Linked DNA regions of Homo sapiens. The main gene of each other region encodes a partner of the protein of the gene in region 2 in a complex. Each region holds a gene or a part of one and is shown on either strand. Other genes may lie near its edges. A codon is read from its position in the direction of its gene.

The links. Proteins that work in one complex are often made in the same cells at the same time.
Region 1: the proteins of BCKDHB (region 2) and BCKDHA are in contact, whole or in part, in a crystal structure (PDB 1V16), measured with the Homo sapiens proteins. Residues at the interface, in NP_000047.1 of Homo sapiens: Pro89, Thr90, Val92, Asp117, Arg118, Phe120, Asn121, Thr122, Pro123, Cys125, Gln127, Gly128, Ile129, Gly131, Phe132, Ile134, Gly135, Ile136, Val138, Thr139, Asp158, Gln159, Asn162, Glu163, Ala165, Tyr167, Arg168, Tyr169, Arg170, Ser171; in NP_000700.1 of Homo sapiens: Phe155, Leu185 (codon at 2,618), Gly186 (codon at 2,615), Lys187 (codon at 2,612), Arg189 (codon at 2,606), Gln190 (codon at 2,603), Gly196 (codon at 2,585), Cys197 (codon at 2,582), Lys198 (codon at 2,579), Phe202 (codon at 2,567), Val203 (codon at 2,564), Thr204 (codon at 2,561), Ser206 (codon at 2,555), Pro208 (codon at 2,549), Thr211 (codon at 2,540), Pro214 (codon at 2,531), Gln215 (codon at 2,528), Val217, Gly218, Ala219, Tyr221, Ala222, Arg225, Gly244, Asp245, Ala248, Asn251, Phe252, Thr255, Leu256.

What each region holds. Positions count from the first base shown.
Region 1 is NC_000019.10:41,414,795-41,421,820, reverse strand, and holds part of BCKDHA (2-oxoisovalerate dehydrogenase subunit alpha, mitochondrial isoform 1 precursor), read right to left. Parts: intron 2,687-7,026; coding exon 2,525-2,686; intron 1-2,524. UniProt on the Homo sapiens protein: Together with BCKDHB forms the heterotetrameric E1 subunit of the mitochondrial branched-chain alpha-ketoacid dehydrogenase (BCKD) complex.
Region 2 is NC_000006.12:80,340,659-80,346,784, forward strand, and holds the end of BCKDHB (2-oxoisovalerate dehydrogenase subunit beta, mitochondrial isoform 1 precursor), read left to right. Parts: exon of another isoform or gene 1-1,982; intron 1,983-3,005; coding exon 3,006-3,146; 3' UTR 3,147-5,612; downstream 5,613-6,126. UniProt on the Homo sapiens protein: Together with BCKDHA forms the heterotetrameric E1 subunit of the mitochondrial branched-chain alpha-ketoacid dehydrogenase (BCKD) complex.

The DNA.
Region 1 (7,026 bases), on a different chromosome or scaffold from region 2:
AGCCTCCTTACTAGCCCTTCACACACTGCCCAATCCCTTATCCACAGGGCAGCCCGCGGATTCCATGAAGAGGTGAGCCAGGCCAAGGAAGAGCAGACTCCTCCCCACCCACGGCTCCTGTCCCACTTTGAGTAAAAGTCGACATCCCTGCAACAGGCAAAGGCCTTGAGGCCCCACCCAACCTGCACCATCTGCACCCCCACCCACCACCTCCTGGACTTTACCTCCAACCACCCCACACCTGCTCACCCTACACCCGCTCACTCCACACCTGCTCACTCCACACCTGCCCCTCTGGGCTCCTCCCAGCTCCTCAAACACGCCAGGCTCACACCTGCCTCAAGACACCACACAGCTCCCCCCTCACATCCTCTGGTCCATACTTCAGTGTCACTCCAGTGACGGACCCCAGCCACCCCTACAGTGCACCACACCCGGCTGGCTTGGCTGCTCCCTACAGGACCCCCACCCTCATATACTCCAGGAGTTCCCTCTCCATCTCTGTTACTGTCCGTCTCCCCCACCACAATGGCAGCACCAGGAGGGCTGAGGTTTGCGTTGCTTTTGTTCCCTGCACTTGGAGTGGCACCGGCACATGGCAGGAACTTCGTGTATTTGAAGTGACTTAGCAGGGACCCAGAGGGAAGGTTAGGGCCACGCCCCAGCCTTGTGGAAACCCTATTACCTTTAGCTCAAATGCCCCCTAAATGCCCCCTCCTCTGAGAAAGCTTCCCTGCCCACCTCCCACCTAAGAGGCTCAAACTGCTTCTTGTTCCTCAACAAAAGAACACTATGAGCTAAGGGGTGTGGAGCCTCCTGCTGTGCTGGGCACAGTGCTGAGGCCTGGAGAGACACAAACTCATGCATCTCAGCTGCCCTAGGGCAAAGAAGCCAGGGCCCAGACCAACCCTAGATCAGGCTACAGGCCCCGGAGGACAGGAAGGGGCTCCGATTCCTTGTTCTCCACACTATGAGGGTGCAGGCCTGGCACCCAGTGGGTTTGCTTCCCAAAAAAGCTCTTATAAGGGAAGGGACTTCAGGGCACCTACGGTAAGCTTTGGGGAAGCTTACTTGACTCTGAGGACTGAGGCAGACAAAGGTCAGGGCCAAGAACCCAGGCTCTGGAGGTACACAGTCAATGACTTGAGTCCCTGCTCCTCTCCCTCTGTGCCACATGACCGTTAGCGAGTGACTTCCCTCTTTGACTTCAATTTCCTTTTTTTTTTTTTTGAGACAGGATCTCACTTTGGCTAGAGTGCAATGGCACGATCTCAGCTCACTGCAAACTCTGCCTCCCAGGTTCAAGCAATCCTCCTGCTTCAGCCTCCTGAGTAGCTAGGATTACAGGTGTGCACCACCATGCCAAGCTAATTTTTGTATGTTTAGTAGGGACAGGGCTTTGCCATGTTGGCCAGGCTCCTGCACTTTTTTTTTTCCCATTCACTTGCTGTCTCTCACACACACACAAAACACGGGCATCCTGCTCTTGAAAACAGGAACAAGAGCAAATAATAACCTCTGTCCCCATGGCCACAATGAGGGTCCTTATTAGATGATGAACGTGAAGCATTGGCACAGTGGAACCTGGTGCACACGTTGGCTATGTTTGTGAGCAGACAAATGCAGTAGGCATGTGGTTGGGAAATCCAGAGTGTGGTCACACAGGCTTCAGGCCCCTGAATGGGGTGGGGACAGCAACAGAGCCCTCTTCTGAAGGGTCCCAGACAAGAGGTGCATTCAAAGTCTGGAACACAGGCCAGGTGCAGTGGCTCACATCTGTAATCCCAGCACTTTGAGAGGCCAAGGTGGGCAGATCACTTGAACTCAGGTTCAAGACCAGCCTGGCCAAAATGGTGAAACCTTATCTCTACAAAAAATACAAAAATTTAGCCAAGCACAATGGCATATGCCCATAATCCCAGCTACTCAGGAGGCTAAGGCAGGAGAATCACTTGAGCCTGGGAGGTGGAGGTTACAGTGAGCCGAGATTGCACCATTGCACTCCAACCTGGCTGACGAGAGTGAAACCCCGTCTCAGACCAAAAAAAAAAAAAAAAAAAAAAAAAAAAAAAAAGTGGGCTGGGCACAATGGCTTAAACGCCTGTAATCCCAGCACTTTGAGAGGCTGAGGCGGGTGGATCACCTGAGGCCGGGAGTTTGAGACCAGCCTGGCCAACACGGTGAAACCCTGTCTCTATTAAAAATACAAAAATTAGCTGGGCGTGGTGGTGCACACCTGTAGTCTCAGCTAATCGGGAGGCTGAGGCAGGAGAATTGCTTGAAGCTGGGAGAAGGAGGCTGCAGTGAGCTGCGATAGCACCACTGCACTCTAGCCTGGGCAACAGTGCAAGACTCCGTCTCAAAAAAGAAAAAAATAAGAAGAAGAAGTCTGGAGCACAGACCAGGGCTCTAGTGGTGTCACCAACCCAGAATTCCACCCAGAAGGCAGGCAAAAGAGCTGAGGCCTGGACAGGGGTGTGACATTGGTCTGCACATGTGCAAGGTACAGGGCATGCATCCTCACCCTGAGGGATCTGCGTGGCCAGTGGAGAGGAGATAGTGACGAAGTGGCGTTCCTTGCAGCCGTAGTGGACAGGCATCTGGCGCCCCTTGCCCAAGTCACTGATGTTGCCATAGCACTGGGCCATGAATAGTTCCAGGGGGTAGTCCCGATACATCAGCACACCTAGGAGGGGAGGAGGCAATGGTTAGCCGAGTGGGCAGTACAGGGGGACAGTTCAGCCCTGTGGGTGACCTGCAGCATGCTGGCAGGCAGACAGGAAAGCTCAGGCTTGTTTTAAGAGGAAGACTGATGTTCAGACTGACTGACTCTGCCCAGCAAGGCCAATCTGATTTTTCAAAAGAAAGCAGAAATCTAGCCTTTTTCTTTCTTTCTCTTAGTGAGATATTGTCTGGTATTTAAGTGCTTTCAACTAATTCAATTACCTTTAAGAAATATTCTAACCATAAATCATTACTATGGCCAGGCATGGTGGTTCATGCCTGTAATCCCAGCACTTTGAGAGGCTGACGTTGGAGGATCGCTTGAGCCCAGGAGTTGGAGACCAGCCTGAGCAACATGGTGAGGCCTCGCTTCTACAAAAAAAAAAAAAAATCAAAACATTAGCCAGGCATGGTGATGTGTGCCTGTGGTTCCAGCTACTTGGGAGGCTGAGGCAGAGGATTGCTTCAGCCCAGAAGTTCAAGGCTGCAGGCAGCTGAGATCGTGCCACTGCACTCCAATCTGGGCTACAAAGCAAGACCCTGTCTCGAAAAAAAAAAAAAATCATCATTATGAACCAAATAACAGCATAGACCACTAATTTACAACTTCTGGACTACAGAAGTACTCTAACCCATGTATGGCAGTAAAACCTTTTCTTCAAACAAAACCTCTGGTGAACACCCACCTCCCCATCAAAGGGAACCGCTCCAGGTTAAGGGGGCCCTTCCTCCGAAGTTAGAAGACAGAAGGGGGTTTGTGATTGCCCTCAGACAAGCTCTTTGCCCCGCCTGAAGAGTGGGACAACCTTCACACCAACACTTTAGGGGCAGCGCTGTGGATCAATGCTGCAAGCACTCAGACCGGGAACATTATTCAGAGGGAGCTCTCTAGTACAGTGCTTTCCAAATCCTTTCTTTACCGCAGAACCCGCTCTTTAGATACAAATTTAATGGAGATCACATTACACACAGCAGTTACCTTTTTTTTTTTTTTTTTTTTTTTTTGAGACAGAGTCTGGCTTGGCCACCCAGGCTGGAGTGCAGTGGCGCAATCTGAGCTCACTGCAACCTCCACCTTCCAGGTTCAAGCAATTCTTATGCCTCAGCCTCCCAGATAGCTGGGATTCCAGGTGTGCACCACTAGATCTACCTAATTTTCTTTCTTTTTTTTTTTTTGAGACGGAGTTTTGCTCTTGTTGCCCAGAATGCAATGGCGCAATCTTGGCTCACTGCAACCTCTGCCTCCTGGGTTCAAGCGATTCTCCTGCCTCAGCCTCCTGAGTAGCTGGGATTACAGGCATGTGCCACCACATCCAGCTAATTTTTGCATTTTCAGGAGAGACGGGGTTTCTCCATGTTGGTCAGGCTGGTCTCAAACTCCCGACCTCAGGTGATCCACCCACCTCAGCCTCCCAAAGTGCTGCAATTACAGGTGTGAGCCACCACGCCCAGCCCACTTGTTGATATTTTAGTTAGAGTTGAGGGTGGTTAGCACTACTTCAACATCCAACTTTAATACAGGTTTACTGGTATTTTCTGACACATGCTTTTGAATGGACATAATACAAATCCACACAAGATGTGGCTGTGCTGCATATGTAACAGATAGAAACAGGAGTTGCTCTGGTTAAGGAGGGAAAGAAAGGTCTTGTAGAGGGTCAAAGAAGGTCCAAGGGACTGATACAGGACCTTGGAATCAGGCTTTCTCAGAATGTGGTACTAGGTCCACCCATGTGAGAAGGACTGGGCAGGGGCAGGGGAACGTGCTAAAAGTACAAACTTGTCAGGCTCAGTGGCTCGTGCCTGTAATCCCAGCACTTTGGAAGGGTGAGGCAGGTGGACTGCTTGAGCTCAGGAGTTTGAGACCAGCCTGGGCAACACAGCGAAACCCCGTCTCTACCAAAAATCAAAAAAAAAATTAGCCAGGTGTGGTGGCGTGCACCTGTGGTCCCAGCTATTCAGGGGGCTGAGGTGGGAGGATCACTTGATCCTAAGAGGCAGAGGTTGCAGTGAGCCGAGATCATGCCACTGCACTTCAACCTGGGTGACAGAGTAAGACCCCGTCTTGAAGAAAAAAGAAAATACAGACTCACAGGCTGATTTGCACCAGGAAACTCCAGGTCCAGTGGGAACTGCTGCTCTTGCTTGACACATGCTACCTCTTTTCTTGTTGGTCTCAGAGACAGGATCTTACTCTGTCACCCAAACTGGAGTTCGGTGGTGGAATCATAGCTCACTGCAGTCTTGAACCTCTGGGCTCAAGCAATCCTCCCACTCAGCTTCCTGAGTAGCTGGGACTACAGGTGTGCACCACCACGCCTGGCTAATTTTTTAATTTTTTAGAGATGGGGGTCTCGCCATGTTGCCCAGGCTGGTATCAAACTCCTGGGCTCAAGCAATCCTCCCGCCTCAGCCTCCCGAAGTGCTGGGATTACAGGCGTGAGCCACCACACCTGGCACGTGCTTCCTCTTAACACTCCTTTTCACCGGGCGCCACTCCCTGCCAGTGCCACCACTGATACTCCACATATAGCCCTGGGAAGACAGCCAAGGGTGGGAAACAGCGAGAGCTGTCTCTGGGTCAGACTGCCATAAAAAGACTCGGCTCCACTCCTTAGGAGAATGTGGCCTGGGCCCATGACCTCACCTTTGTTGACTCAGGTTCTTACCTGGCTTTTAGAGTTGATGGTAATGCTTGCCTCTCCTGCCTCACATGGATGGGGGAGGTGCCTCAATGAGGCAACACCACTGGGGCCTGCCCTAACCTCACCCGGTGTGCCCTCGCTCTGCAGTGCAGTGAGGGGAAATGACAGTCTCCGAGGCTAAAGAGCACATATAACAGCACCTTGGCTGGCCCGGCGCGGTGGCTCATGCCTGTAATCCCCAGCACTTTGGGAGGCCAAGGCAAACGAATCACTTGAGGTCAGGAGTTTGAAACCAGCCTGACCAACGTGGTGAAACCCCATCTCTACTAAAAATACAAAAATTAGCCAGGCATGGTGGTGCATGCCTTTAATTCCAGCTACTCCGGAGTCTGAGGCAGGAGAATCACCTGAACCTGGAAGGCAGAAGTTGCAATGAGCCAAGACTGCGCCACCGTACTCCAGCCTGGGCGACAGAGTGAGACTCCACCTCAAAAAAAAAAAAAAAGGCCAGGCATGGTGGCTCACGCCTGTAATCCCAGCACTTTAGGAGGTGGAGGAGGGCGGATCGCAAGGTCAGGAGATCAAGACCATCCTGGCTAACATGGTGAAACCCGCCTCTACTAAAAATACAAAAAATTAGCCAGGCATGGTGGTGGGCGCCTGTAGTCCCAGCTACTCGGGAGGCTGAAGCAGGAGAATGGCGTGAACCCAGGAGGTGGAGCTTGCAGTGAGCCGAGATCGCGCCACTGCACTCCAGCCTGGGCAACAGAGCGAGATTCCATCTCAAAAAAAAAAAAGGAGAAGAAAAAAAGAACAGCACTCTGGTGTCAAGAGCCCAGGGAGGCACTACCTATCATGATGAACACCACTCTTCTCACTTCACAGACGACAGACAGCGTCACCAAGGTGAGTGGCCTGCCAAGTGAAGTCTAGAGTGGATGTGACTCAACTCCTTACCCTGCACCATGCTGCCTCTGCATGAGTCCCATTTGCAGCTGCCCAGACACTTCTGCTGACCCTCAGTGCTGGACAGTCATTCTTGCAGAGGCGGCCAGCTCTCCCATGTGGAGAGCTCAGCGGCTCCCATGATTCCCATGAGGCTTGCTCGGTCCTGCCTGGTGCCCTCACAAGAGAACCCTTCAGCAAAAACAGGTGCAGTGCTCAGCACAGCTGGCGGGGGCCCAGCTTGCTGCCTGGTGTCTGGAAATCTTTTTCCGCACGGATGACACTAGACCTTAGACAAACACCACAGGGCGTTTGCCCTCCTAGAGCATGTGGGGCCAAGGGCCTGGTCCAGCTGTGAGCAGTAGACAGTCCAGGAGCAGGCTGCAAGCCATGCTGGTCCATGGGGGCTCTGGACAGCCACGTGGTCTGGCCCTGCTGAAGGGCTGTCCCAGGGCGAGTCCCCGATCATGACACCAACCCCTGGCCCTGAGCGCTTACTCTGTGCTGAGGGCACTTTGCCAACTGCCCCAAGACTGCCCTCAACAGCTGTCTTGGGAAGGGCTACCATCCCCCTTACGAATGAGGAAACAGAGGCACAGGGCAGTTAAGCAACTTGCCCCAAGCATCTAAGACAAAGGGTTAAGATATGCCTTCCTGGCCCTATCAGTGCTCGCTGACACTCTGAGGGTAGTCCCCATGCAGGGCCCCACAC
Region 2 (6,126 bases):
CATGAAAATTCAGGGCACATGGTTGCTATGGTTATGGCGTCATGTATTTATAATGGAGAGATACTTTGTCTTCATTAATCTACAAACTTGCCAGTGGGATTCGGTATTTTTTTTCTGTGTGTGTGTGTGTGTTTGTGTGTGTGTGTACATACGTACGTACGTACATGTATACAGCTTCTGCATGAAAACACTGAGGCTGAACAAGGTGTTCTGTTTTGGTGGTAGTGCAGAGAAACATACTCACACATAAATTATTTATATGTGAACCAATTCAGTGAGAAGTAAGTACAGCTGCTTAATTGACCTAAGGGTCTTATTTCCAACTGCTTAAAAATAAGTGTAAAGTGAAGTTCATGGAAGAAATAACTTAAGGCTCTTTAATATACTTTTGTTGGTGAAGAGAATTTCAAGCTGTTTCAGTCAGTTAGCATATATTCTTAAAAAGACTGATATCCTATTCGTAGTCTTCTCTTATATATCCTTGAATTATCTTCCATGATTTTTATATTTTATATACTTATAATAGCGTATTATAACAACTTAATGCTACATAATTTACAGTAATCGTTTCCAAATTAAGGAAGCCCTATGTGTAAAATCACAAATTTATGTAACATAACACAGGAACTTTTATTCATATAAGAAAATCATTATTCACTTTACTGTTTTCCTTTATTTCAGCATCATTTATTACAAAATTAATACTGTTTTCGAAAAACCAAAACAATATATTATAAAGCACAACGTGGAGTCTTCTCTCACCTCCTTGTCATTCCCAGCCTCAAAGGGTAACCACTGTTTACAGTTCAAGTGTGTCTTCACAGCAGATGTTTTTCTATGCTCGTGCAGACATATAGATGTATTCCTGGAAAGAGTGATGCTTGCATTCTTGAGGAGTTAGGAGCATTGCTATTTGAAAAAATAAAAATCCAGTTTGATGATGTTAGTCATTATGCTGAAAGGAGTGATTTTAACAAATACCAACAGAACTTCTTGTGGTAGGCCAGCTTTCCAAGTTACTGGTTCAAGAGAACAGTCATTTTATAACAGGTATAAAATCAAAGACGTTTAGTAAAATATTTTGCCCTTAATTCTCCATGGATAGCTTGTTTATGAAGAGTTCAGTATTCAGGGAAGATGGAAAAACAGCCCAGTGTCAGCTAAAGTAATAAAACCGACTTAATCCCAAATTGACAATTTAAAGCCCTTTAAAATTACTTGTTGCAAACAAGAAATAATCCACCCAGTCTGTCATCTCTTTTCAGCTTATTAGTAGTGGAATCTCTTAGGTGGCTCTTTAAACCGTGTGTATTAAAAGTCCTAAAGTTGTTCGTGGAGATTTCCAGTTGCTAGGGAATACCAACACTTATTTGGTGTTTGATATTGTAAATCATGATAGTTATTGGGGCCAAAGGGAGGTCTGTAAATGTCCAGTAGGTTCTCTTTGGAGCTAATTTGTGCTGTTTGCATTTTCTTTCTGCCCCAATACACTTGTCACTGGAAGAAATCACACAGGGGGTAGGGATAAAGCATGAGGTATCATGATTCCTTCATGTAAAAATTTTGCTCAAATTAAAATGTGAACATAGTATAATATGTAAAAAAAACTGGACCTCCTTAAATCCTTTATAAAGCAAGGCAATGTGTAAACACATGAATAAATATGAAGGTTTTATTTTAAGTAATAGCTGTGAATGTTAAAAGTAATATTATTTTCCTTAGAATAGTTTAATCACATATCCCTTTTAAATTTTTTAAGCCTTTAAACGTTTTATTTTCAGTCTGGGCTTGGGGACTCACACCTGTAATCCTAGCAGTTTGGGAGGCTGAGGCTAGGGGATCACTTGAGCCCAGGAGTTTGAGACCAGCCTGGGCAACATAAGAAGACCTCATTTCTGAAAAAAAAAAAAAAAAAAAAAAAGAAAGGGAAGAAAGGGGAAGGAAGGGAAGGAAAGGGAAGAAAAAAACGAAAAGAAAAGGAACAAAGGAAGGCGTCGGTGATGTGCACAAGTGGTCACAGCTACTTGGTAGTCTGAGGTGGGATTGCTTGAGTCTGGAAGATCGAGGTTGCAGTGAGCCGTGTTTGCACCACTGCACTTCAGCCTGGGCGAGAGAGTGAGACCCTATTTCAAAATAAATTCAAATTTGAATATTTTACTTGAGTAACATTTTTTTTCTCCTGAAAATAATTTTCTACAGTGTTCTACTGTGGTTGAGGTTTTCATGTTTAAATCAGATCTCTAGCCTCATGGGACTCATAGTCTCTCATGGAAGACAGATAATTGGGCAACTACAATGGATTATGCCGAGTTCGGTGCTTTGGGAGCTCAGAGCACAAGCCCCTTCCTCATCTGCCCTGTAGGGCTGGGGAGGTGCTGTCAAGGAAGGCTTCCCAGCGGGAGTGATTCCTCAGGTAATAACCTGAGATTTGTACACACATCAGTCAGGCAAAGAGCTGTGGACTTGGGGTGTGAGTGGCCAGAGACCCAGCATTATCTGCAAAAGCTAGACTATGAGAGAGATGAGAACACAGTTAAGTAACTGATAGAAGTTCAGTCTGGCTGGGGCATGGAGGAATTACAAACATTTATTATGAAAGTAATACATGTGCATTGTATAAAATGTGAGAAAAACAGAAAATGAGAAGGTATATATTATTGCCAGTTTCATGCTGCAGAGTTAACTACTGTGAACATTTGTTGCATTTTTATAATTCTTTCCATTTATATTCGTAGAACAGCGTATTTGATATTATCCCAGTTTGGCTTAGACAATAGATATATATACAGGTATAAAATGCATATGCATACATGAAAACACATAATAAAACTGGGATCATGCGAACATGCTGTTACCTGCTTTTTTCATATTACAGTATACTTAAATATTTTTAATGTCCTTAGATGCAATTGTATTTTTAGTAAGTGAAATATTTTAAGTTGCACTATTTCATTTCTGTGAGTAAAAAAAATTCTTGAAGTTAAGCATCCTGACTCTGTCTGCAGGAGGAATGTTTCTTGAACCTAGAGGCTCCTATATCAAGAGTATGTGGTTATGACACACCATTTCCTCACATTTTTGAACCATTCTACATCCCAGACAAATGGAAGTGTTATGATGCCCTTCGAAAAATGATCAACTATTGACCATATAGGTAGGTATGCATCTTGAGAAAGCTACTATGTGCCCCTGACATTAACGTACTGTTAACCAAGACACAGCAATCATCAGTGTTTTGATGGTAACAAACTTTGATGGTAAAGTTGGTAAAAGGCAACTTTCAGAAGAAAATAATGTGCTTTAGAAAAAAAATTCAAATTTATAGTAGTATATTTACATTTTTGTTGTTGTTGTTGTTCTGAGATGGAGTCTCACTCTGTCGCCCAGGCTAGACTGCAGTGGTGCAATCTCAGCTCACTGCAACCTCCCCCCTACCCCTGAGTTCAAGCGATTCTCCTGCCTCAGCCTGCTGAGTAGTTGGGATTACAGGCGCCCACCACCATGCCCAGCTAATTTTTGTGTTTTTATTGGAGGTGGGGTGTCACTATGTTGGCTCAGCTGATTTCAAATTCCTGACCTCAAGTGATCCACCTGCCTTAGCCTCCCAAAGTGCTGGGATTACAGGCATGAGCCACTGCACCTGGCTATATTTACATTTAATAGAAACATATCTAGCATATGTATATGTGATTTTTTTTTTTTTTTTGAGACCGAGTCTCACTCTGTCACCAGGCTGGAGTGCAGTGGTGCGATCTTGGCTCATGGCAACCTCTGCCTCCCAGGTTCAAGCGATTGTCCTGCCTCAGTCTCCTGAGTAGCTGGGACTACAGGTGTGCACCAACATGCCCAGCTAATTTTTTATATTTTTAGTAGAGACGGGGTTTCACCATGTTGGCCAGGATGGTCTCGATCTCTTGACCTTGTGTTCCACCCGCCTTGGCCTCCCAAAGTGCTGGAATTACAGGCATGAGCCACCGCGCCTGGCCTGTATATGTGATTTCTAAAAAATAGATGCATGCATATGTTAACATTGAATAGTCAATCACTAGATGAAGATGCTCTCTACCATGGTTTAGATTGCAAGTGTACTTTATACCATTGTTTCAACTTCAACCTTTATTTTTGTATATATTTTTTCAGCTACTTAAACTGTTCATGAATAGGCGTACTTTCTGTATTTAAAAATGGCCCCTCAAGCACCGTTAATTTACATTCCAGTTATTTACATGATAATTCATGACATTCTGAAACTTGCCTGTATATTATCTGAAAAATGGATTTCTTGAGCAAAAGATCTGTTTATTGTATGTAAGGAAAAATTTTACCTGAAAACAAACAAACAAACCCTAAAACTCAGCACCACTACCATTTCCAGAAGCTTTTTTAACAAGTGAATATTTTTTACATAATGGATAATAAATGGTATTTATTCATCATGATTTTCTAAGTAATGCTTATCAGCCCCTTCAGTGGTGTTATTCTAACAAAATGAATACATTACAAATTATTAAGTTAGCTTTTCAGAGTTTTAATATAGAAGTTACTAGCACTGACACACTGATTTTGAAATGTTTCAAAATGAGTAGATATGATTAGATCCTTTACCTTTTAATATCTAGTTTTTCCAAAAATGATAGTAATATCTTTTGAAGAACTATGCTTTTTCAAAAGCAAAATCAACTCTGTATAATAGCACATTCTCTACTTTTTAAAGATCAGAAATGCTAGAATTCTTGACTTTTGTGTATGGGTAGTAAATCTAGCTCACTGAAAATCAGAGTGAAACGCCTTTACATTTGTGCGGATAGAGAAGTTAACTCTCCCTCATATGTCACTGTGCTACCATAATCCCTACATTTTCTGTCTGTTCTAGTCTAAGAATATTGTTATAGATGGAAGTTAGGACCATTAGCCCACAGATGCATGTATTCTCTCAGACATACCGGTGTAGATGCTATATTTCTGATGTCTTCTTAATGTCTGTGAAAGCAACTGGCATCTACAATAAATCACACTTAGAGCTGGTTAGAGGACTCCTTCACTTTTGTTGTCCATGTGGTTCCCTTCCGTGGACCAGCCGTAATAAAGAGCCAAGGTAGTGATGGTGGCCACGTGCCTCGTTGCTATTTTTAAAGTAATATTCAGATGTGGTTTTAAATTTAGATTATGTATTCCTTTTGAAACATAAGAAAAACATTTAAACCTATGCTGAAAATACGATAAAAGAAAAACAACTCCAATATGCTAAAAGTTAAATATGGTATTTAAGAAAATAGTCATGTATGCAATTGAGAAAGTCTATAATTTATTTTACAGAAAAGCTGGAAGATTATGACTAGATATGGAAATATTTTTTCTGAATTTTTTTTTATATTTCCTCCGACTTACCTCTTTTTGAAAAGAGAGTTTTTATTAAGTGAACCATCACGATATTGGCTGAAAAGTTCTACATTCTATTATTGTATTGTAACACACATGTATTGATGATTTTCATTAAGAGTTTCAGATTAACTTTGAAAAATATTCCACATGGTAATCTTATAAATTCTGTTTAATTACATCTGTAAATATTATGTGTGTGATAGTATTCAATAAAGTAAAATCAAATTGTCTTTGGGTTGTATGTGTTCTTTTTTTTTCCTTTAGTAAAAAGTTTTTGTTTCAGAGTAATAGCTTGTGAATTGGTTAATTAAATCTGAATTAAAGTACAGTATTCACTATAGAAATGGTGACTTCTCAACTTTATTGTATTTGGTTCAGTTCTTTATGACCAGGATGGTTATATGTTGACAGAACTTCTAGAATGTTTCCCCTCATTCTTCCCTCTTGCCTGAACAAGGTGTCGTAATGAATGTACTCACCTCCCCAGTGTGTGGTGGGTGGTGAGGCAGAATTTTTCCTACTGCCTCTCTTCCGTGAGATGGACAGCCTAAGCCTGTCCATTACAAAACTGCCAAGTTTTAGCTGTAGCTGTAGTGTTTGTCGTGATGTTGCAAAGCAATTTTTGCCCATGTTCTTTATATTATTACTTGGATAAAAAGAAAAAACAACAGTAGCAACAACAGATGACTCTGACAGGAGGAAACCTCCTTATTGGGGACATTGTCCAGTCCTCTTGTTTCTTAC